Linked DNA regions of Homo sapiens: all the other regions are linked to region 1. The links come from fine-mapping of genetic effects on gene expression. A gene starts in region 1. Each other region holds a variant in brackets. All regions are shown on one strand. Distances are from middle to middle.

Region 1 (8,186 bases):
TAGATAGTGACCAGCTTGGGGTTAGGAGTTAGGATGACACAGCAAACTTCACAAAGGACAGGTAGCACAAGTGAGAAACAAAAACCTTCATTGTTTTAAGCCACTGTGATTTTTGAACTTTTTGTTATCATAACATAACCTACATCCTCCTGATTGACTCACCTTCCTTTAAGTAACTGTATTTGCCATCATCTTAATTCACTCCACAGATATGTGTTAGCCAAAATGCCAAGCGCAGGGCTAGATGCTGAGAAATGCATGATACTGACTCTTTGTTCTCACGGGGCTCACAGTAATGGGAGGAGAGTGAGGGTCATTGTCAGGAGTCTTTTAAAAATAACCCCAGTTCTTTTGTTTAGCTAAAGTCGAGGTTTGGAACTACTGGTTTTGTGCACATTGAATACTTCATAAGTGTGCTGACTGCCTGCAATTTTAATAACAGAGAAGCTAGAGATTTTAATAAGTCAGAAAAAAGGTTGTATATGTGGAGAGAATGAAGAAAGAAATGATTAACAAAGTAAGTATGAGTACTGTACTTTATTTTGTCCCTGGGTTGCCCACAACTTTCTGACTCAGCTATCCTATCTTTTTTTTTTGAGATGGAGTTTTGTTCTTGTTTCCCAGGCTGGAGTACAATGGCGCCGTCTCGGCTCACTGCACCCTCCGCATCCCAGGTTCAAGTGATTCTCCTACCTCAACCTCCCAAGTAGCTGGGATTACAGGCACCTGCCACCACACCCAGCATTTTTTTTTTTTTTTTTTTTTTTTGTATTTTTAGTAGAGACAGGGTTTCACCATGTTGGCCAGGTTGGTCTCAAACTCCTGACCTCAGGTGATCCACCTCAGCCTCCTAAAGTGCTGGGATTAAAGGCGTGAGCCACCACACCCACACCTGGCCCTCAACCATCTCTTTCACCTTCTGCTCATGACAGTTTACTAGAATTTTTTTCCCTTGAGACTGAATGTCAAGTCAAAAACAATAAAAAATTGCTAATCATTACTATGACTCCAGAGCTACTTGCTTCTTTAAAAATTCCTGAAATTATAAAATATAAAGCCAAAGCAATGAATTTCTAATGGTGGAATTGTAGACACTGTGGCCCCCTGGGGATGTTATTTCAGATGGGGCAAGGGGATATTCCTAACCTATTTTAAATCATGCCAGCCTAGATAACTATGTGAAAATTATATGGGTGCTTAGCAAAACTATTAACTAGCACCCCTTTGGCAGTTTTACATTAAAAATCCTTTATTAGCTTAGGTATGACCTAGTGATTTTTAAAATTCATTACTGATTTTTGAAAGCCTCCTCTTCAAAACAAAAAGAGCCCATTGTTCTTAACTGGTAATACCAATTACTCCTATAAACTATATGTTAAAACCAATCTTACAGCTAATAGAAGGGTAAATATGAGGCCAACTAATGTTTATACTTACACAAGTATCTACAAATATAAAGAAGTAGCTCCTTAATAATTTCTAAAAAGAGACCCATTGATTAATCTACTTGAGTCTCTTAGCAAATGCTACTGTTTAATAACTCATTTGATGGTAGTAAATTTTCTCCTGAAGCTACCCTTTCTTTATGACTAGGCAATAAGGTCTGTGGATCTGGGAGACCTACAGTTGTTATTCAATTCCTCTGCTTCCACGTAGTGTGATTTGGACAAATGACAGGCCCTGCTTTTCTCCATTACTACCAGGATGGAAGTTGTAGCCTTCTCAACTGTTGTGGCAATTAATTGCCAAGTTCTTGGTCAACTGTCAAATCTTGAGTCGAATATGGATCTCATTGAGATGCTTTGGAACTGTGTAGGAGTAGTCACTCCCACAACATTTATCTCCCCCTTCTCCCTTACTAAGAGAGCCCTGATTTTCTAAAAGATGACTATGTGCTCAGTTGAAATACTGTTTACACTCCCTTGCAGCTATGTCTTGTGACCAAGTCGTGATCAGTGAAATGTAAGTGAAGCATTGACAGAATCCCTTCCTAAATAAAAAGACAAAGCCTAGCAAGGAGGCCTTCTGCCTTTCACCCTTCACTCTTTCCCTTCTTCCTGCCTGGAACACAGATGTAATGCAAAAGAATAAACCATTTTGTAGCCATGAGGATAAAGCCATACATTAAGAAAGACAGATCAAAAGATCTGGGTTCCCAGATAGCATCTTGAAGCTATTTTATAAACCCTGGGCAGTCTGCTTTCAGACTTCTTTTTACCATGAGAAAAATAAATTCTTGTTTGGTTTAATCACCAAGAATGAATTTTTATTATGTGCAACCAAGTGCAAATCCCAGCCAATACAATCTATGGACTCATGAGGTCTTCATCTGGATCTCATTCCTCTTCTCACCGAATCAAGACTCAGGGTCATCTCTGAGCTGTAGGGGAAAAACCTGAAACCATAAAAATTCTAGAAGATAACATAAGAAAAACTCTTCTAGACATTGTGATATTCCCCTCCGCACCCCATGTAGCCAGAGGCACCTATTGCCTCAGGGAAGAATAGGATTGTTAAACTAGGAAAGTAGACAAAGGCAGGGTAAAAATAAAGCCTAATTGGTTACCCAGAGGTCCAATTTGTATAGAAAAGGCAAAATAAATGCACAATTGTTTTCCTTTTCCTAAAACAGTTTTGAAAATTATGAGCTGGTTCCCTCTGAACCATCAAGCAATCAATCTGTTCAGTTGTTTTTAAAATATTATCAATTAATAGATATAATCATGTTTGATGTGTTTTAAACAATTGCGATTATCTTTTTTTTTTTTTTTTTTGATGCTCAAATTAGCCCGTCTTTGGTCAGTGACAGCCTATTTGAATTGTCCCCTTCTTGACACAACCCTAGTGGTAGTTGATAGTTTTCTTGCTTTCTGAAAATATTTACAGATAAAATGATATGATGCTCTGGGATTTGCTTCAAAATGATGACATAGGAAAAAGGGGTATAGATGAAATATGACTGTCCATGAGTTCATAATTGTTCAAGCTGGTTATGGCCCCATGGAGATTCATTATACTACTTTCTTACATTTGTATATGTTTGAAATTTTCTAAATTAAAAGTTAAAGATAAAAAAATTCAGTCAGGCACCTATAGTCTGCAAGCACTTGGGAGTCTGAGGCTGGAGGATGGCTAGAGCCCAGGAATTCAAGACAAGCTTGGGCAACATAGCAAGATTCAGTCTCGAAAGGAGAAAGAAAAAGAAAAGTTGAGTCTTGAATGCCTGGCTTTGATTGGGGGGTGGGGGGAAGAAAAATATTTCTAAGTTCCCTAGGCTTCCCTTTACTTATTGATGAGTAGGCCCAGAGGTCTGACTACAGAGCTGTACTCTAAGTCAGAGGTCATGAGCTCTCAGGATATACCCATTACCCCCATTGTAAGGAGGGCATGAAGAAACCCTCTTGGATGGGGGAGAGAACAGAAGGATGGAGGGTAAGGAGAGGGGAAAATGTGCGAAAAGCTTTCAGAGCTTCACGAGTTGGGTACCTCTTGGCAGCTTTGCTGGTGGTCACAGGGTTGGGTAAAAGGGGTTCCCTCACTACCAATTTGTCTTACCACCGTCTTCCATTCTTTGGCCCAGATTCTAGTCTCTCATCCCCAACAAGCCTGATTCTATTTCTTGTGGTCAAGGGGATCTTGCTTTCCAGATAGGACAGGAAGGAGCACTGGGCTGGACATCCCGAGGCCAAAAGCCGAAGCCTGTCAGTGATTCAAAATGACACGGGGTTTTGGGTCTCACTTTCATCACCCATGAAATGAAAGGTCACCCTGCAAGACTGAAGCCCCTGCAGTGTCCCAAGCATCCAAATCCAACACTCAAGAAACCCTGGACCCCAACAGCCTGTCCTGCAGGCCTCCGTGCCTTTTCATTGAACGTCTTTTCCACCATTACACATCACATCGCCTCCTAAAGAAAAGCGCGACTGCTATCACTTTTTGCAGATAATTGGAGAGGCGGTGCCCAGCATAAGATGACCCCAAAGTTGACAGCACTTTCAGGCTTTGTGAATTAGGCGCGTCACCGACCTGTACGATTTCTCCTCTCTGCCCTTGCTCGCCTGCAAATCCTGACCCCCGTCCACACTGCGGAGAAATCTCCTAAGAGACGGCTGCCAGCGTCGCCTCTGCGCCCAGGAGGCGTGGAGCAAAGGACTCGGGAGCTGAGCGCGCTGCGGCCCCGCTCCCAGCGCACAGCGCACAGCCCAGAGGGAGGGGCCGGCGGGGGCCGGGCAGCGCCAGACTCGGAGCGCCGGGCTCACAGCGGCTCAGTCTCCTCCCGAACCCAGCCCGGCTGGCGAGAGCGGCAGCCAGTGCGAGCCAGAGCCCGGGCCTCAGAGCGGGTAGGCGGAGGGCCGGCGGACTGGAGCGGCGGGCCGCGCTCGGGGGCCCCGCCGTGTGCGCGTCCTCCCATCTTATCCTGGTAAGTGCGGGCGGCTGCGCCCCGCCTGCCGCTGTAGCCGCTGTGGCGGTCGTCCCCGCATCCCGGTTGCGCGCATCCCGTTGCTGCTCTGCAGGCTCACAGGTGGCTCTGCCGTGGATGTGGGCGCCCCAGGCCCCGCTAGGAGTTAGCCAACTCTCTGTGCTCCGGGGCGTGGATTTGGAGCCCCCGCCTCTCCTACCCTTGCTTTTGGCTTGGGATGGGGGGCGTGGGGCAGGGCCTGCCGTCGGGGGAGACGCGCAGAGGGGCGCTTCCATTCCCCAGCCACCTACAAACGACTCAGGGGGATGCGGGCCAAGCGCCTCACCAAATGCAACCCAGCTCCAAGCTCACAGGTGGGGCGTCTGTCCTTTAGATTTATTTTCCTATTAATCCACCAGGGAAAGTTTGGGACCACGCAAGGCAAAGTTGGGGCGCGGCTGGGGGCGAACATTCTCCTACGGAGGCAGCTCCCGGGGAGACGAGCGGTGGGTTTTCAGGGGGAGCGAGGATCGGGCTGGAGATGACTTTGCGCCCGGGGAGTTGAATCTGTCCCTGCTGGTCGCCCGGGCCGGGCATTTACACAATCCCCTGAGTGCTGTGAATCGCTTAATCGTTCCTGCTAAGCGTTGACGTTCGCAGCCACCTGGGAATCTCCGTGATGGGGTCGGGTTATCTCAGGAGTAGCAGCAACTCAGCGGGGTTGATTTGTGCTCTTGCTTTGCTCTGAAAACCTGAGCTCCAGCTAATCTCAGTATTTAAGTGGCGTGTGTTTAATTAGCTTATTTTACACCTGAGATTATCTCAGCGACTGCCTCCAAAATGAAATCGTTGATATGGAAAAGAATAGTCTTTTTAAAGAAAAACTAAAAAGAGAACTCTTCAGAATATCAGCTGTCAAGTCTGGCTATTTTACCCATCTCCTCCGTGGGATAGAGAAAGAAAACTCTGCTTTGGATATCTAACCTATTAAAGTCAGTGGTGGGGCTATTTTGGGCAGATTTTGTGGACAGAGGTATTGCTACAACTTGCGTATTGTTTATGAAATACACATGTGGTCTCTCGAAATAGCCTACTTGTTATTTCACTGCATTGGGAGTTCTTTGACTTACTAAGCTGCCTATTTTAAATATGACTAAAGGTTGTTTTTTTAAAAAAAATATTTAGCTGAAAACAATGTCTAGATGTTTAGGGAAGGCAGCTTGTGCATGTCACCAGAATTTTTTTTTGTAAACTTAAATTTGTAAAGGACTACTTTCCCGCATCTGATAAAGGAGAGACTTTTTATGAAAAATAAGATCTGATATCATTATGTGTGCAGAAAAAAGATCACTAAATTAAAGAATCACTCACTTTCCAAATGATAGGTTAAATCAGAAAAAGTTGCCTACAACTGAGAATTATGTAATTGGACCAAAAGTAAACAATGAATAATTGTTAGTTGCCAAGTACCTAGACAGTTCTGAAAGAAGTCTAGGTACCTTTATAGCACTGGAAGGTTATTACATGATTTAAGGTGAGATAATCTGATAGATTTTCACCTGTAAAATTTTTATTCTTACATCTGCCTTCTCTGCACCTAACATTGGATTTACCAAAATATTTATTTGGGTTTATACATACATCTTCATAAGTGCCACATCCCATACTAAGTGCTACATATGTTTTTACTCATCTTGAAAACAATCCTGGGTGGTAGGTACCGTAATTGTCCCCATTTTAAATGAGGAAACTGAGGCACAGAGAAGTTAAGTAACTTACCCAAGATCGCACAGCTGCAGGACAGGACTTTATCATATCTGCAAAGATCTTTATTAAAAAGACGTGATTTTATGATTTACTTATTCTCGTTTTTATTTTTATTTAAGCATAAATGATGAAAGTTTCCTGTGAAGCATAACAATCCCTGATTGTGAAAGTACCCCACAAGCATCGTTAACTATAAAGTAAGGAAAAGTATGAAAGAACCATCTGGTTGAGTCTAAAGTTGGAAGATCACCATATCCACCAGAAGACCCAGGATGGATCTGCAACAAAGCACCACCATCACTTCCCTAGAGAAATGGTGTTTGGATGAGTCACTGTCTGGCTGCAGAAGACATTATAGTGTCAAGAAAAAACTGAAGTTAATTCGAGTCTTAGGCCTTTTCATGGGTCTGGTAGCCATTAGCACTGTCTCATTTTCAATCAGTGCCTTTTCTGAGACAGATACACAGAGCACAGGAGAGGCCAGTGTTGTAAGTGGCCCTAGGGTAGCACAGGGTTACCATCAGAGAACTCTCTTAGATTTAAATGACAAGATTCTGGATTATACTCCACAGCCACCTCTTTCTAAGGAAGGCGAGTCTGAGAATAGTACAGATCACGCCCAAGGAGACTACCCGAAAGACATCTTTTCCCTTGAGGAGAGAAGAAAAGGTGCGATCATTCTGCATGTCATTGGAATGATCTACATGTTCATAGCCTTAGCCATTGTCTGTGATGAGTTCTTTGTTCCTTCTTTGACTGTCATCACTGAAAAACTGGGCATCTCTGATGATGTGGCTGGAGCCACCTTCATGGCTGCAGGAGGGTCAGCCCCAGAACTTTTCACATCTCTCATAGGGGTATTTATCGCTCACAGCAACGTTGGCATAGGCACAATTGTAGGTTCAGCAGTATTCAACATCCTCTTTGTTATTGGCATGTGTGCTCTGTTTTCTAGAGAAATCTTAAACCTGACATGGTGGCCGCTCTTTCGAGATGTGTCTTTCTACATTGTTGACTTGATCATGCTGATCATATTTTTCCTGGATAATGTCATCATGTGGTGGGAAAGCTTGCTTCTCTTAACAGCTTATTTTTGCTATGTGGTTTTCATGAAATTCAACGTCCAAGTAGAAAAATGGGTGAAGCAAATGATAAACCGCAATAAGGTCGTCAAGGTGACAGCACCAGAAGCCCAAGCAAAGGTTGGTGGTGGTGGATTTTTATTTAATGCTTTTCTTGACTACGGTTCTGAATTATTATGTTTTTGAGATCTGCAGTTCTTTTGATGTGATGGTGTTTGGGGCTCTTGTGGATAGCAGATTGATTCTGCAGTTCTGTGATAGCTAGACTAACATAGCAGTGGAAAAAATAATTTTGGGGTATTCTTGCAGATGTTTACTAAGTTCCTCAGCTACTTGCTTCAGAGTAAAACACTTGTAAATATAGGTTACATAAGCCTCCCAAAGCCAATTCAGCAGTTATTTGTCTCTTATTTTCTGAAAGTGGGCATAATGATTTTGTGAACAATTTAATTTTCATAGGAAAGTGTGTATGTGCCTAGAAAGTTGCAAGGCCTTTTCTTTTTAAATGAACACATGGCAATTACCAAGAAAGAACCATCTCTTTAGAGATGTCTGAGGAAGAAAGTTTGTGTCACCGTAGCTGTACCTTCCAGTCAGCAGCCTAGCCCAGCAGGGCTTGTCATTATTGTTGTCATGGCTGTTTTTCTTGATTGACACAATCATGTCTTAGGTCACTTGACCAGGAACTGATCAGCATCCATTGTAAAGAGAATCATTGGCCAGCCCTGCCATCTGCCTCTGCATCACAATGACCCACTTTGCACACCATAATAAACATGACTTCAACTATTTTTAGAGTAGAATTTGAGGGAGTTTTAATAACAATCGTGGCCATCCTACCACTTAGGTGAGTGGAAAGCAGATTGGTAAAGAGCTTAGAAGTAATTCCTGCAAACACCTAAATTATTTTTTTAAATAGTGGACAAATGGCATCAATA
Region 2 (8,186 bases), 100 kb after region 1:
TATTCACCAGCAACACATTCTGCTTTGCGTCCTTAAAATGAAGATAAAAACAAAACTCATTCTAAGGAAATTTTCTTTCTAATCAACTTAACTGAAATGCAGCTTTTTTCTTTTTCTTTGTTTGTTTATTTGTTTTTCTTCTATGCAACTCTTTTAAAAAAGTAAACTTTCCTACAGCTTTTCCGTATACCCCAGTGACTACTTGGAATCACTTTTAGGTTTTGTGTTCAAACAAAGATTAACAAATGTGTAGTAAGTCTACCAAATGATACCCAGCTTTCTATCGGCACCATTTTCATGTTTTCTCATTGTACTTTGCCACAATACAATGAGGGAGATGTTATTCTCTCATTTTGCAATCAAAGAAACTGAGGCTCTGGAGAAGTTATATGATGTGCCTAAAGCCACACAATCAGTAATCCATAAAGCCAGGATTATCAAGTCCTGTTTTCTAAATCCAGGGCTCTTTTCGCAGGGTATTAGTAACATATTCTAAACTAAAATATTTTATTTTGCACATTTAATAGCACCTTACTTCAAGATTTATACAAGCTACAAGCTGAACAAATTGATTTGCAGGTTATTTTTAGAAATCATTTCACCCATCACTGAGAGGAGCCTTCACAGAGCTTTTCGAAAGCATACAAAAATATTGCCTGGCAGTTTAATGAAATGGTAAAAGAAGAGAGATAAATTACTGGAAAGTACAGAGTGTTTATGCATAAACACTAGAAGACACACATGGGGCAAAGGGATGACTCCCCACTGAACTGCCTTGTCTGAATTAACATTTAAGTAACGCAAGCACCTTTGTCATTGCCTGGATCCTGAGGGGTCACAGCACCTGACTGGAGCATTTGTCACCCAAATTATAGGGTTCAAATCCAATCCTAATGACTTGGGGTGCTAATCAAGACAGCTGAAAGTAGTAACTGGTAGGAATCTGATTTGGACTCAAGGAGGAATGCAAAGGTCAAAGCCAGAGAGCAAGTAAGTACCAAAGTCAAGTGTAAAGGTAAAACCCCAAACAGGAAAGTGGTCCTATGATCCCAAAGTTGGAAGCTCAAGAAGAAGTTGAGAAACACGGCGTGGAACACATTGGTACAATGTTTCAGAATGAGGAATGTGAACGGTGTGAGGAAGTCAGGAAACATTTTCCGTCATAGCTATGGCCTGATATGTGGGACCACCCAAATGGACAAAGGAATTTGTCTGTTTGCTCCCTAATTGATTTCACCTTCGAGTCTATCACACGAATTCCTACAGAGTTTCATAATGGCTCATAAACTTTAAGTAACTTGAGGACTATGTACACAAGGGGTGAGTAACATGCCATTTTATACATTACATACCCCAAACACAGTGAACTTGTTCCGTTTTGTTTTTTGATTTTTATTTTAGGTTCGGGGAACATGTGCAGATTTGTTAGATACATAAATTGTGTGTCATGGGTTTGGTGTACAGATTATGTTGTCACCCAGGTAATAAGCATAGTACCCAATAGGTAGCTTTTTGATCCTCACCCTCCTCTCATTCTCCACCCTTAAGTAGGCCCTGGTGTTTATTGTTCCCTTCTTTGTGTCTATGTGTACTCAATGTTTAGCTTGAACTTATAAGTGAGAACATGTGGTATTTGGTTTTCTGTTCCCGTGTTCACATAGGATTATGGTCTCCAGCTCCATCTATGTTGCTGCAAAGGACATTATCTCATTCTTTTTTATGGCTGCATGGTATTCCATGGTGTACATGTATCACATTTTCTTTAGCCAGCCTACTGTTGAAGGGCATTTAGGTTTATTCCATGTCTTTGCTGTTGTGAATAGTGTTGCAATGAACATACACATGTGTATTAGTTCATGCTCATGCTGCCAATAAAGACATACCCAAGGCTGGGTAATTTATAAAGAAAGGAGGTTTAATTGACTCACAGTTCAGCATGGCTGGGGAGGCCTTGGAAAACTTATAATCATGGTGGAAGAGGAAGCAAACATGTCCTTCTTCACATGACGGCAGGAAGGAGAAGTGCTGAGCAAAGGGAAGAAAGCCCCTTATAAAACCATTAGATCTTGTGAGAACTCACTATCATGAGAACAGCATGAAGGTAACCGCCCCATGATTAAATTACCTCCCATGGGCTCCCTCCCGCAAGACGTGGAGATTATGGAAACTACAACTCAAGATGAGATTTGGGTGGGGACATAGGCAAACCATATCAATGTACATGTGTCTTTATGGTAGAATGATTTATATTACTTTAGGTATATAGCCAGTATTGGAATTGCTGGGTCAAATGTTACTTCTGTTTTAAGTTCTTTGAAAAATCACTTCACTGCTTTCCACAGTGGCTGAACTAATTAACATTTCCACCAACAGTGTCTAAGCATTCCCTTCACTCTGCAACCTCACCAGCATGTTATTTTTTACTTTTTATAATAGCCATTATGACTGGCTTGAGATGGTATCCCACTGTGGTTTTGATTTGCATTTCTCTAATGATTAATGATGTTGAGCATTTTTTCATATGCTTCTTGGCCATGTGTATGTCTTCTTTTGAAAAGTGTCTGTTCATGTCCTTTGCCCACTTTTTAATAGGGTTGTTTTTTGCTTGTTAATTTAAGTTCCTTATAGATTCTGGATATTATACCTTTGTTGAATGCTTAGTTTGTGAATATTTTTCCCATTATGTAGGTTGTCTGTTTACTCTGTTGATAGTGTGTTTTGCTGTGCAGAAACTCTTTAGTTTAATTAGGTCCAATTTGTCCATTTTTGTTTTTGTTGCATTTGTTTTTGGCATCTTCATCATGAAATGTTTGCCAAGTCCAATGTCCAGACAGTATTTCCTAGATTATCTTCCAGAGTTTTTATAGTTTTTGGTTTTACATTTGTCTTTAATTCATCTTTAGTTGATTTTTGTGTATGGAGTAAGGAAGGGACCCAGTTTCAGTCTTCTGCATATGGCTAACCAGTTATCCAAGCACCATTTTTTGAATAGGGAGTCTTTTCCCCCATTGCTTGTTTTTTGTTGACTTTGTTGAATATCAGATGGTTTGGGGGTGGCTTTATTTCTGGGTTCTCTATTGTGTTCCATAGGTCTATGTGTCCATAGATCTATGTGTTTTTGTATCAGTACCATTCTGTGTTGGTTACTGTAGCCTTGTAGTATAGTTTGAAGTTAGATAACATGATGCCTCCAGCTTTGTTCTTTTTACTTAGGATTGCCTTGGCTATTTGAGCTCCTTTTTGGTTCCATATAATTTTTAAGATAGCTTTTTCTAATTCTGTGAAGAATGTCATTGGTAATTTGATAAGAATAGCATTAAATCTGTAAATTGCTTTGGGCAGTATGGCCATTTCAACAATATTGATTCTTCCAATCAATGAGCATGGAATGTTTTTCCATTTGTTTGTGTCATCTATGATTTCTTTGAGCAATGTTTTGTAATTCTCATTGTAGAGATCTTTCACCTCTCTGGTTAGCTGTGTTCCTAGGTATTTTCTTCTCTTTGTGGCTATTATGAATGGGATTGTGTTGTTGATTTGGCTCTCAGCTTAGACATTGTTGGTGTTTAGAAATGCTGGTGATTTTTAGCATGCTCCAGTGGCGCAGTCAGTTAGCATGCAGTACTTATACAGAAATGCTAGTGATTTTTGTACATTAATTTTTATCCTGAAACTTTGCTGGAGTTATTTATCAGATATAGGAACTTTTGGAGAGAGGGTGTTGTTTTCCAGGTGTAGAATTATATCATCTGCAAACAAAGATAGTTTGAGTTCCTGTCTTCCTATTTGGATGCCTTTTATTTCTTTCTCTTGCCTGCTTGCTCTGGCTAGGAATATTAGTACCATGTTGAACAGGAGTGGTAAGAGTAGGCATCCTTCTCCTCAAAACATAGTGAATTTGTTAACCCAACCAAGAACCAGATATGAACTCACCTCTGCAATGCTGCCATCTTGTCATCT[G/TCTG]GGTTGCGTTTTCCAGGTTTCTTATATACCTACTTTCTTCACAATTTGTCTTTCGTAATGAAAGACCCAAATTCCAGATATCAACAAGTCTAGATGAAACTCACTACCCTGAAACCCTTAAAATGTTCAAGGGTCACCTTTGCCTGTCAGATAGACTGGGGTTTCCCCTTCCTTAGTTATTTGGTGCTGTTATGCTCACTTGTAGTGTGGGTCTTTAAGGTACTGCTCTCCCCAGCCACATGTCCTGAATGCTTCAGGAAAAGCACTCCATCTCTCTTTGATCATCACGGAAACTAGTTTTGATCATGTTGATCAAAAAGAGCATCATCAAGAGTCCTGAATGGAAGTTTGCTTTAAGGATGTTACCCTAGTTCTAGAAGAAGAACTTCCTTGAAGAGGAAAGAGGATGTCCTTCAGTGCAGCAGCCTGATTTCCAATGGGGGAAGGGATTCTTGCCTCTTTTAGAACAAACCACATCGTCCAAGGAGGACTGTCTGTCTCTTTCCCAGGCCTCAGAAATTTGAATGAAATGTCACAAAACAGTAAAAAAAAGTTGGAGCTTATTGGCCCTGCAGGGGCATCCTGAAAAGATTGCCCATCAGTTCCTGCTGCCTGGTCCCCTAGAGCACCCTGTGTCTACTGTTTTTAAACCCAATTCTTGATTTTCTTTCAATCCAGTGAGTTCCCCATTCCTTACAATAAATTGCCCTTTCCAAATTAAGCAGGAAGTTTCTTTTGCTTGTAACCATAGTATTCCAAGGGCTACTCCCCAGGAGGGGAGATGGTGAAAAGCCAGACACAGGGAGGAACTGCCAGGAAGTAAGAGAAACAAAAAGAGGTGTGGAGCCCCTGGGCCCAGGACCGGTAACCATGAAATCACCAACAGCTTTTTTAAGTGTTTCCTCCCCGCCTCAAAAAAATAATGTTTTTAAATGCTCCCATCTCAGCACAAGAAAGCTGTTCTAGCTATATAAAATTTCAGTTCTGCTTATGCTTAGCTAGATTTTCATCACGTGGTATAGCGGTCCTTGCTAATTCAGAAGCTCTGGTTGAAAGCCTCCATTTAAAATAAGTGGGAAAATGAACTAAATATTGTTGTGTTAGTGAGGTTTGGTTGAACACACATTTCATGAAAAAATAAATTTATGTTTCTTGGAAACTGAAAAAAAAAAAAAAGTTCAGAGCACAATTTCCAGGCAGGACACTGAATGTGAAATGAAGATCACCTGATCACAATGGCTAGGTGTGGTCAGACCAAATGCCCATCACCTTTTCTGGACTCTTCCATTTCCATAAAGACAATGAGCTCCTCCATCTTTCAAGATACCGCTCAACATCCATGTAATCTCCCAGAAACCTATGCTGAGGCAATAGTTCCTTTCCCTTTGCTTCAGTAGCACTCTAGGAGCAAAGACCTGTGTTTCCTGCTATCAGTTTTATAATTGTTCAGGTTCATCCTTCTGTCCCACTAAACTGCATCTTGCCTGTGGGGGATTTGCTTTCAGAGTTTTACCTCGCCGCACTTACAGCGTCTAGCATACAGTAAGTGTTCAATAGTTAATGTACTGTCCTTTCAAAGGATTTCATAGTAAACCTTTCCCTCCTCTCCCTTTGGCAAATGCCCTGCACTGAAATTTTGCATCAGCATTATGCTAGGAATGAAATTTGTGTAGCTGATTTTTCACGGTGGGTCCCTAGCTTTACTGCACTCATAATGTGTATTTTTTACTCTAAACCTTTTTTGAAACAGCTGCTTTCAGTTTTGTTTTGTTTTTTAATCCATCTCACTCTGAGACAGTACAGCTAATCAATACATGAAGTAAAAAGAATGGAAAATGGATGTAAGTCATGACTTTTCTGGGGTTTCCCTTTGGCCCTACCTTCAAAAATTTTCCACCTCTTCCATAACTTGCTTAGAATAAAGACAAATTAGTTTTCATGATGAATGTATTTTAATATCAACTAAATACATCTGTTTAATCCCAAATTAAAGATGCCATGATATTTCCTATGGATATTTCTTACAGTACGTTTGTGTATTTAGAGGTCACCTCTACTTAACGCTGTGTTTCTCCTGCTCCCTGTATTATTGCTGTGTCACACTATATAATGTAGTGGTTATACTTTGCCATGGAAACAGGCCTTTCCTCAGGGTTTTCTGCATACCATGGCCACAGAGATTGAGATGTTCCACTTCTGTGGTTTGGTGTTGAAGTTTTTCCCCTTTACTATTTTAGTTAAAATTTACAGAAGGGGAAAAGAGCTCTGAAGGTGAGGGTTGCTATTGCTGGCATCTTTATTCCTGCTACTATCCATTAGCAATTTAATTTAAGGTAATGTTTCTCCCGGTTGGGCTTACAGAAGGGCCCAGGTTGTATTCTCAGTTATTGTACTTCTGTATGCAACCGTCTACTATCAGCACCAAAACAAACATTCAATGTCATTTCACGTGTGCTGCCTTAGACATTGAGACTCTTACTCCTGGCCCAGGGAACATTTGTGGATGTTCATCACTGCAGGTGAGCATTGTTATAGTTAGAATCTTAGCTCTGGAAAAAATGTTCACATAAAGCACATCCATGATGCAAGATAATGAGTTTCAGAGGCTCTCTAGGTCCCAGTTCCCATTAACCCATGGCAGAGAGAACTGCATAAGAAATGTCAACGTAAAATCAAGCTAGCAAATTTGGACAGAAGAAAGGACGATCAATCACCCTGGCAGAACCCATCAATCAGTTCCTATTTCTGTTACATGAAGGAGTTGTTTCTGCAAACTAGTGTTTGTTACACCTCTCTCAAATATTCTGCGAACATAATATACTGCTTCTTAGATAAAGGTTAATTGAATGAGTCTCTAGAGAATGAAAGCAAATGATTTTGCCACTCACTAATCTATAGATCCTCAATATGTCTCTGAAATGCTCATGTTAACTAAGAACAAAGATGACAGCCAAGCCTGCTAATGTTCTACTAGTGGGCTCTATTATTGCCCACTGCTTTATTTTTATGGATTGTGCTGCATAAAGAATGTTTTTCCTCCAAAACCTTTTTTAGCTGAGCAGTATGAACCAGGGGCAAAGAAGATGGAGACATGGAAATCCCAGGGAGACCCAGTTCCTCCACAGGACCGTGGGTGGTTTGCTTTCTGCACTGCCCCCACACCTCAACTGGGTTAGGCTAGGGATTACAGCAGGGAACAAAAGAGACAATGTTCCCTGCCCTTGTGGAGATTACATTCTGGAAGAGGGAGCCATAGTATAAACAAAATAAGTAAATGAGATAGGATGTTAGTAGATGAGAAGGGCTATGGAAAAGCATGAAGGAGAGAAAAGAGATAGGGAGTTCTGCGGTGCAGAGAGGTTGCAATTTTAAATAAGGTGGACCGGAGAAAGCCTTCCTGAGAAAGGTGATATTTGAGCAAAGACTTGAAGGAAGGGAGGGAGATAACAGAGATCTATGTGGATAGCTAGTGTAAACAGCATTGCAGAGAGAATAATGGATACCTTTCTCTCCAGCTGGAGAGACATAAGCAAGGCAGGTGAGGTCAGAGAGGTAAGATTGGAAGCAGGTAGTTGTAGATCTGGAGTCTCTCTATAAGGGCATTGACTTCTGCTCTGAGATAGGGGGCCATTTGGAAGGCTTTCAGTGGAGGAGAAATATATTCTGACAACATTTTGTGCAGGGTCACTCTGGCTGCTGTGTTGAGAACAAGCTGGGATGAAGGCAGACAGGGCAGGGAGACCAATAAGCCAGAGGCTATTGCACTTATCGGGCAGGTGGTAATAGTAGAGGCCTCCAGAAGTGGTCAGATTCTGAGTGCATTGTGACACACACACACACACACACACACACACACACACAACTCTGGTATATATTTTGAGTTTAAAGTCAGCATAAATGTCTGATCATTTCTTGATTAGAAAGAAATAACTGTCACTAGTTGTGAACTTCTCAACATTGTGAAATTGAGTTTTCAAATGTTTGGAAGCCATGAATCTTTGCCTTAAAATAAGTAAATCTGAGTCATGGGAAAGACTGTAGAGGTAAGGGACCCCAAAATGAAATATATACTTTCATAAAGTTAGCTATGAATATATATATATATATGTTATAGAACTATCTGCATTTCTCATAATGTTTAAGAAAGTGGCGTTAAAGCATTATTGTTAACAGCCATTTTAATGAGCGAAAGTTGTACAAAGAAACTCGGATTTTCAGCTGAACCT
Region 3 (8,186 bases), 56 kb after region 1:
CATTTTATTTTTTAACCTTTTAAATCATTACTGTTAGTAGTGTACCGATTATATGGATATCTTATTGTAACGAGATAAATTTGCTAAAATAAAGGCATGGGAAATACTTTGTAAAATAAATATGTAATAGTGGTGGGTTATTCATGCCTTTGTTTTATGACACCATCATTCACACATGGCCATCAACAGAACACCCATGCATGTTTCATAATAATTAAATATAATAATCTTTGACATTTTGCTAATTTTCAGTCATATATAAACAATAATCATAATTTTATTTTGTTACCATGAAGATATATTTGTCAAGGAAGGAGAAGAAAATATATTTTGACAGTTTTCTTAGCTTCTTAAATTTATTAAATTAACACATTCAGATATGTAGAATGTGGACCTCTATCTGTCTTCATGCCCCTGTCCCCGCAAATGGGCCTAGATGTGTCTGGCAAAGTTCTTAGTGCAGTGCTGCAAAGAGGAAAAGGTAGCAGATGTCCTTGTCCATCATGTTCTTCAAATATTATTTGTTCAATACTGATTTCTTTTGCTTGCTCTATCAATTCCTGGCAGAAGTGTATTAAAATTTCCCACTATATTTGCAGATTTGTCTGTTTCCCATTTAGTTCAGTTAATTTTTGCTTTGTCTTTTTTGAAGCTATGTTATTAGACATTATAAATTGAGAATTATTACATCATCATGATGGGTTAACTCTTGCATGGTATAAGATTATTTCTTTTAAGACAGGGTCTTACTCTTTCACCCAGGCTGAAGTACAGTGGCATGATCATAGCTTACTATAATTTTAAACTCCTGGTCTCAAGGGATCCTCCTGCCTCAGCCTGCTGAGTAGCTAAGATTACAGGTGCACACGACCACACTTGGCTAGTTTTATTTTTATTTTTACTTTTATTTTTAGAGACGAGGGTCTCACTATGTTGCCCAGGCTAGTCTTGAACTCCTGGCCTCAAGTGATCTCCCCACTTCAGCCTCTCAAAGTGCTGGCATTACAGGCATGATGCATCATGCCTGGCCTGGTCTTGATTTCTAGAAATTCTTATGGCTTTAAAGTCTACTTTGTCTAATTTCAGTATTGCTAAACCAGACTTCTTTTGGTTAATGTTTATCTAGAATTTTCTATCCTTGCAACATTTTCAAGCTCTTATATTCAAAATGTATCTCTTGTAAGCTGCAGGTGATTGGGTACTGATTGCACTGTTTTGTTTATAATCAGTTAATTAGATTTAATCAATTTGCATTTGATGTAATTTTGGGTATATTTGGGGTTTAAATCCATCATCTGTTTTCTCTTACTGAGACTATATTATTTTTCTCTCCTTTTTTTGCTACTCTTTGGATTAATCAAGTATTATTATTATATTTTGTTTCCCATCCCTATTTTATTATTCCGTTATTAAAATTGTAGAGAACATATAATGCATGCTTAACTTACAAAAGCCCAATATAAATGAGTACTTTTACCATTTTCCAGACAGCATGTACTAAGAATCTCAGAATATTTTAATTTCACTTAAATCTCTCCCACTGTTTGCGTTACTGTTATCACATATTTTAATTCTTTTTTTTTATACTTTAAGTTTTGGGGTACATGTGCACAACGTACAGGTTTGTTACATATGTATACATGTGCCATGTTGTTGTGCTGCACTCATTAACTCGTCATTTACATTAGGTATATCTCCTAATGCTATCCTCCCCCTTCCCCCCACCCCACAACAGGCCCTAGTGTGTGATGTTCCCCTTCCTGTGTCCATGTGTTCTCATTGTTCAATTCCCACCTATGAATGAGAACATGCGGTGTTTGGTTTTTTGTCCTTGCGATAGTTTGCTGAGAATGATGGTTTCCAGCTTCATCCATGTCCCTACAAAGGACATGAACTCATCATTTTTTATGGCTGCATAGTATTCCATGGTGTATATGTGCCACATTTTCTTAATCTAGTCTTATCATTGTTGGACATTTGGGTTGGTTCCAAGTCTTTGCTGTCGTGAATAGTGCCGCAATAAACATACATGTGCATGTGTCTTTACAGCAGCATGATTTATAATCCTTTGGGTATATACCCAGTAATGGGATGGCTGGGTCAAATGGTATTTCTAGTTCTAGATCCCTGAGGAATCGCCACACTGACTTCCACAATGGTTGAACTAGTTTACAGTCCCACCAACAGTGTGAAAGTGTTCCTATTTCTCCACGTCCTCTCCAGCACCTGTTGTTTCCTGACTTTTTAATGATTGCCATTCTAACTGGTGTGAGATGGTATCTCGTTGTGGTTTTGATTTGCATTTCTCTGATGGCCAGTGATGATGAGTGTCTTTTCATGTGTCTTTTGGCTGCATAAATGTCTTCTTTTGAGAAGTGTCTGTTCATATACTTTGCCCACTTGTTGATGGGGTTTTTTTTTTCCTGTAAATTTGTTTGAGTTCTTTGTAGATTCTGGATATCAGCCCATTGTCAGATGGATAGATTGCAAAAATTTTCTCCCATTCTGTAGGTTGCCTGTTCACTCTGATGGTGGTTTCTTTTGCTGTGCAGAAGCTCTTTAGTTTAATTAGATCCCATTTGTCAATTTTGGCTTTTGTTGCCATTGCTTTTGGTGTTTTAGACATGAAGTCCTTGCCCATGCCTATGTCCTGAATGGTATTGCCTAGGTTTTCTTCTAGGGTTTTTATGGTTTTAGGTCTAACATTTAAGTCTTTAATCCATCTAGAATTAATTTTTGTATAAGGTGTAAGGAAGGGATCCAGTTTCAGCTTTCTACATATGGCTAGAAAACCCATCATCTCAGCCCAAAATCTCCTTAAGCTGATAGGCAACTTCAGCAAAGTCTCGGGATACAAAATCAATGTGCAAAAATCACAAGCATTCTTATACACCAATAACAGACAAACAGCCAAATCATGAGTGAACTCCCATTCACAATTCTTCAAAGAGAATAAAATACCTAGGAATCCAGCTTACAAGGGATGTGAAGGACCTCTTCAAGGAGAACTACAAACCACTGCTCAACGAAGTAAAAGAGGGTACAAACAAAGGGAAGAACATTCCATGCTCATGGATAGGAAGAATCAATATTGTGAAAATGGCCATACTGCCCAAGGTAATTTATAGATTCAATGCCATCCCCATCAAGCTACCAATGCCTTTCTTCACAGAATTGGAAAAAACTACTTTAAAGTTCATATGGAACCAAAAAAGAGCCCGCATTGCCAAGTCAATCCGAAGCCAAAAGAACAAAGCTGGAGGCATCACGCTACCTGACTTCAAACTATACTACAAGGCTACAGTAACCAAAACAGCATGGTACTGGTACCAAAACAGAGATATAGACCAATGGAACAGAACAGAGCCATCAGAAATAATGCCACATATCTACAACTATCTGATCTTTGACAAACCTGACAAAAACAAGCAATGGGGAAAGGATTCCCTATTTAATAAATGGTGCTGGGAAAACTGGCTACACATATTTTAATTCTAACTACATCCCTGCATGTAGTTAAGAACATCCCTAAACTGTTCTATTTAGTCTCTGCTTAAATGTTACTTCCTCAGAGAGACTTGCCTCTATCATCATAATTAAAGTAACCTCACCCCACCCCTTTCTTTTCCATTCCCTTATTCTGTTTTGTTTTTCTTCCTGGACTTATTACCTGAAATAAGAGTATTTATTTGTTTTTGCCCATCTGTAGCATTAGAATATAAGCTTCAAAAGTACGGGAGTTTTCTACCTTGTTCACAAAGGTTTGGCCCAGAGAAGGCACTCAATAAATATATGTTAAACCACAAACGTAGGTCAGAGGTGCCCAACAGAGACAACCATTGAGTCTTAAGAATGAGAAAATCAGGGGTCCAGAGGACATTGGAGAACTTCTGCAAACCACAAGTAAGATTATTTTTATAACAAGAAAACTTGGAAGAGATACCAGGATCACTCCAGAAATAACTAAGTGGGCAGATTTCCTCTATTCATGATTTTTCATTCATTCAATGCTTCCTGAACACCTGTGCAAATCCTGGGTGCTGAGCGAGGTGTGAGTGCTGTGCTAGTCTTCATGCTGGGTGCAGCAAGCTGCGTTCTCTGTAGGCTTCCTTCACAGATTGTCATTGGAAATCAGACCTGTTTTCACTTAAAGGTGTGAGGAGGCAATGGGCTGGATGACTGAAGGGGATATTGTAAGAGAACGGAAAGAAGATCATCTTGCTGGTGAGGCATTCTGGGCTGAAGAAAATCAAGAGCTTTGATTCTGATACCCTTAGGTCAGTAATGTTCTGACAATATCCAAATGATGTGAAATGCATTCACAAATAACAGGTATACCGAATTGTTCCAAGAAAATTCTAAATCCAGAGCCTCTGAATTTATAGTGCCCTGTTCTCCCCATCATTGAGACTCAGGCACCAAAGGGCAGTAGTTCTGGAAACTTGGACCAAGATACCATCCAGAAGGTAGCTCACATGCCCAGCGTGTTTAAAAAAAAAAAAAAGAGTCACATCTTAAGACTTCTAAAATGTGTCATCCTTATGTGACTTCATAGTATCATTTTCTTCTCTGTAGCAATTGGGCCTGAAATGGTCTAAGGGATACCTCCCTCTAGCTATTACTCATTTATGAAACAATAAAACAAAAAGGCCACAGGTTAATTCCTAGGTTTTACTCGCAGAATGGCAATTGAAAAATCTGGATTTTTTTTTACACTGGGGCTGCATTATTTTCACATTTTCAATTCTCAGCCTTTTCTCCAGCCTGACA[G/A]GCAGATGGGAGGGCAGCTGGCCCTGCAATCAAAAGTGACCCTGGCAGCCAGTGTCTCTGTTTCATGGTCTGCCCTGAGACAGGCAGGCCTGGGTTCTGCATTTGAAATGTGATTGGCAAAGTGGCTGCAGAGGGAGAACCAGCACAGACACGGGGGAGAGGTAGCTCTCAGATTGCGACGTTAGGATTATATACTAATGTATGACTGACATTGCCAAAGCCTCATTAAGACATTGCATATGTTCCTTAGCTTGATTGAATCTTTCTACAATTTATGCATAGATCACAACATCACACTGTGCCCCGTAAATATACACAATTATTTGTCAATCAAAAAGAAATTAATTAATTTAAAAAAATAAGAAAGGCTGCCAGCCCTGATGGAGTTGCATGGGTTGGGGTTCTCATGCTCTTTAATAGCCAGTATTGCTAGTATTTTTTCAAGAGGTGGTCTCAGGCCACTATGACATTCCAAGCTACAAGTCAGAGTTTTCTCTGAAAGCTAATCAGACTGTGGAAATTAATCCCACAACCTCTGCCTCTTCAATGCCAGCCAGGGGGGCTAAACCACTTGGAAAGTTTTGGCAGCAGACATAATGTGCCCACTAGGGGTCAGGGGCTGGGCTGACCATAGCTGGACAAATATTTGCACCTGCCCTTTTGCAGTTCTGTCTAAAAGTTCACCAGGAAGAGTTTTTTTTTTAACAAAACAAGGAGTTCTTTAAGGTCTTATATTGGACATCCATAAAAAACACAGCAATAGGTATCATTTTTGAGCACCTGCCATGTGCCAACCCAATCTCAGTGCTTCTCCTCCATGTTTTCAAATCCTCACAACCCTGGTAGATATTGTCATACTCATTTCACAGACAAAAGAGATAATATTTGCTCAAGTGGTTGGACAAACTGGCTCACAATGTATAGGTTACGCTGCCAGGCAAAGTGAGAACACAGTTCCAGTATGTGTGAGGTCCTGCTAACAGGTTGCTGTGCAAAGAAAAGTGTGGGCAGCCTGCAGTCACCATTTATTTGGTGTCAACCCTGTACTTGGTATTATATTTGATGTTTTACCTATGCTACATGTATTAGTCAGCTTGGGCTGCTATAAGAAAATACCACAGACTGGGTGGCTTAAACGGCAGAAATCTATGTCTCACAGTACTGGAGGCTGGAAGTCCAAGATCAAGGTATCCACTGATTTGGTTTCTTCTAGCTCATAGATGTTCAACTTCTTGCTGTTTTCTTGTATAGCCTGTGTGCATGTGCACACATGCACACACACACACACACACACACACACGGAGAGAGAGAGAGAGAGAAACAAGTGTTCTTAAGTGTCTCTTTTTATAGGGACACAAATATTAGATCAAAGCCCCACCCTTATGATTGTATTTAACTTAAATTACTTCTTTATACTATCTTCAAATACAGTTACATTGGGGGTTAGAGCTTCAACATTTGAATGTGGGTGGGGTTGGTACACAAACATTCAGTCCATAGCATTATGTATAATCCTCACAAGAAATGTATTTTACAGATGGAGAAACTGAAGCTCAGAGAAGATAAGTTATACTAGTAGTTTATGACAGAGACAGGATTCAAACATAAATCATAATTCTAAAATTCATATTTTTTCCACCAGCTAGACCACCTTCTAAAGTTTATTTGGGGCTTGATATCGAGACAATATATAAATGAGAAGAATTGCTAAACTTGATTTATCAGCTGCCTTATGTTGTATACTAGTTTGTTTTATGCTGGCTTATTTTGAAAGATGAACTCAAGACAAATCAATTATCACTTAGCATTTGAACAAATGGACTATGAAGCAAAATGAACTGAAAAGTGTGACAGTTTTAAGTAGGTCAGGTGCTTGAAAGATGAATATCTTTTTTTCCATTGTCAAAAAATTTTATTATCAAAGGTAAAAAAAAAAACCTAAGAGTTATAGGATTTAAGTGTAGAAAGGAGTAGGAGTGATGATTTAAACACTATTAAATGTGACTTTAAATGTAGTCATTTATGCTTAGAAAATATATGCATCGAAAAATATTTTAAGCATGTTTAAATTTTTAATGCAAAAGTAATATATTCATATTTTAGCAATTCAGGCAATAAAGGGATGAAAACCATTGTCAATATACATATGTGTGTATTCTAAGCAATAAAACAATGACTCTTAAACTAGATATAAAATTCTACAACTAGCTTTTTAAATTTAATATATAAGTTAGATATGTTTTCATGTTGCTATGTATAAACTTACCTCATTTTGTGAAATAATGGCCTAGCATTCTTAAGGTTGTGAAGTCATTTAACTGTTCGCCTACTGGTGGGCAATTTAGGTTGTTTTCTATAATCACAAAAATATAACATTGAACATCTTTGTAATTCTACCTCTGTATACATGGACAGATAAATATATACGTTAAATAATTATCATATATTTATGTAATTATTTATCCTACAAATATAACTATGTAATTTATCTGTAGGATAAATGCAATTACTGTGTCAAAAGCCTGCACATTACTGATCTTGATACATATTGCCAAGTTACCTTCAAGATAAATTTTCACATTCAAATATTTTCCAAAGACTCATTCTACATTAAAGGCAATGAAATATTGTCATGGTTCTCACTGCATTCTGTACCTTCTCTTTGGTGACACTTGTTCAGAGGCCTGAAGGAAGTGAGGGAGACACCTGTGCTGCTGTGGGTACCCTGCAGCCTTGGGTAAAGTGACCTGGCATTCATTCATTTAAATGGCAGTACTTTTCTATTTTTTTTTAATTTTACGTTTTCAATTGACAAATGATAATGGTACATATTCATAGGGTACCTAGTGATGTTTAGATCCATATAATAATGTATAGTAATCAGATCAGGGTAATTAACATATCCATCATCTCAAACATGTATTATTTTTTTGTGTTGGTAATGTCTAATATCCTTCTTCTAGCTACTTGAAACTATCTAACATATTTTTAACTATAGGCATTCTATAGTTGAGATAGAGCACTAGAACTTATTCCAGGTCTCTAGCTCTAATTTTATATCCTTTAATAAATCTCTCTCTAGCCCTCCCTTCCTCCTTCCCTATCCAGCCTCTTGTATCCTCTTTTCTTCTTTTTACTTCTATGAGATCACCCCCTTTTTTTCTTAGCTTCTACATATGCGTGAGAACATGTGCTGTTTAACTTTCTGCTCCTGGCTTATTTCACTTATCCTCAAGTTCCATCCACATTGCTGTGGATGACAGGATTCCATTCTTTTTATGGCTGAATAGTATTCCATTTTGTATGTACAACACATTTTCTTTATCCATTCACCTGTTATTGGACACCTAGGTTTAGTGCATATCTTCATTGTTGTGAATAGTGCTGCAATAAATATGGAGTGCAGATATCTCTTC

Direction of the effects. Alleles are on the strand shown, and positions count from the first base shown. SD is a standard deviation of normalised expression in the study named. Not every link is listed here.
In carriers of allele G in region 2, the expression in neural progenitor cells of the gene that starts at base 4,268 in region 1 tends to be higher than with TCTG alone (moderate effect, 0.65 SD a copy in Aygun 2021).

What was found.
Region 2: its variant is fine-mapped to the expression of SLC24A2 in neural progenitor cells (Aygun 2021, PIP 0.95).
Region 3: its variant is fine-mapped to the expression of SLC24A2 in cerebellar hemisphere (GTEx, PIP above 0.99).

What each region holds. Positions count from the first base shown.
Region 1 is chr9:19,785,119-19,793,304 of GRCh38, reverse strand. It overlaps SLC24A2 (solute carrier family 24 member 2), which reads left to right and starts at 4,268. Exons shown (of 11, transcript NM_020344.4): 1 at 4,268-4,420; 2 at 6,286-7,368. The coding sequence starts at 6,439. It overlaps LOC124902128 (a long non-coding RNA gene), which reads right to left and starts at 4,146. Exons shown (of 2, transcript XR_007061432.1): 1 at 4,027-4,146; 2 at 2,245-2,380. RefSeq lists a silencer at 1-147 and an enhancer at 4,705-5,352.
Region 2 is chr9:19,680,487-19,688,672 of GRCh38, reverse strand. The region is part of intron 2 of SLC24A2 (solute carrier family 24 member 2); the gene reads left to right. Among named protein-coding and RNA genes, the nearest start is that of SLC24A2, 100 kb to the left of the region's middle. The variant G/TCTG (reference allele first, on the strand shown) is at 3,961.
Region 3 is chr9:19,729,401-19,737,586 of GRCh38, reverse strand. All of the region lies in intron 2 of SLC24A2 (solute carrier family 24 member 2), which reads left to right. Among named protein-coding and RNA genes, the nearest start is that of SLC24A2, 56 kb to the left of the region's middle. The variant G/A (reference allele first, on the strand shown) is at 4,771.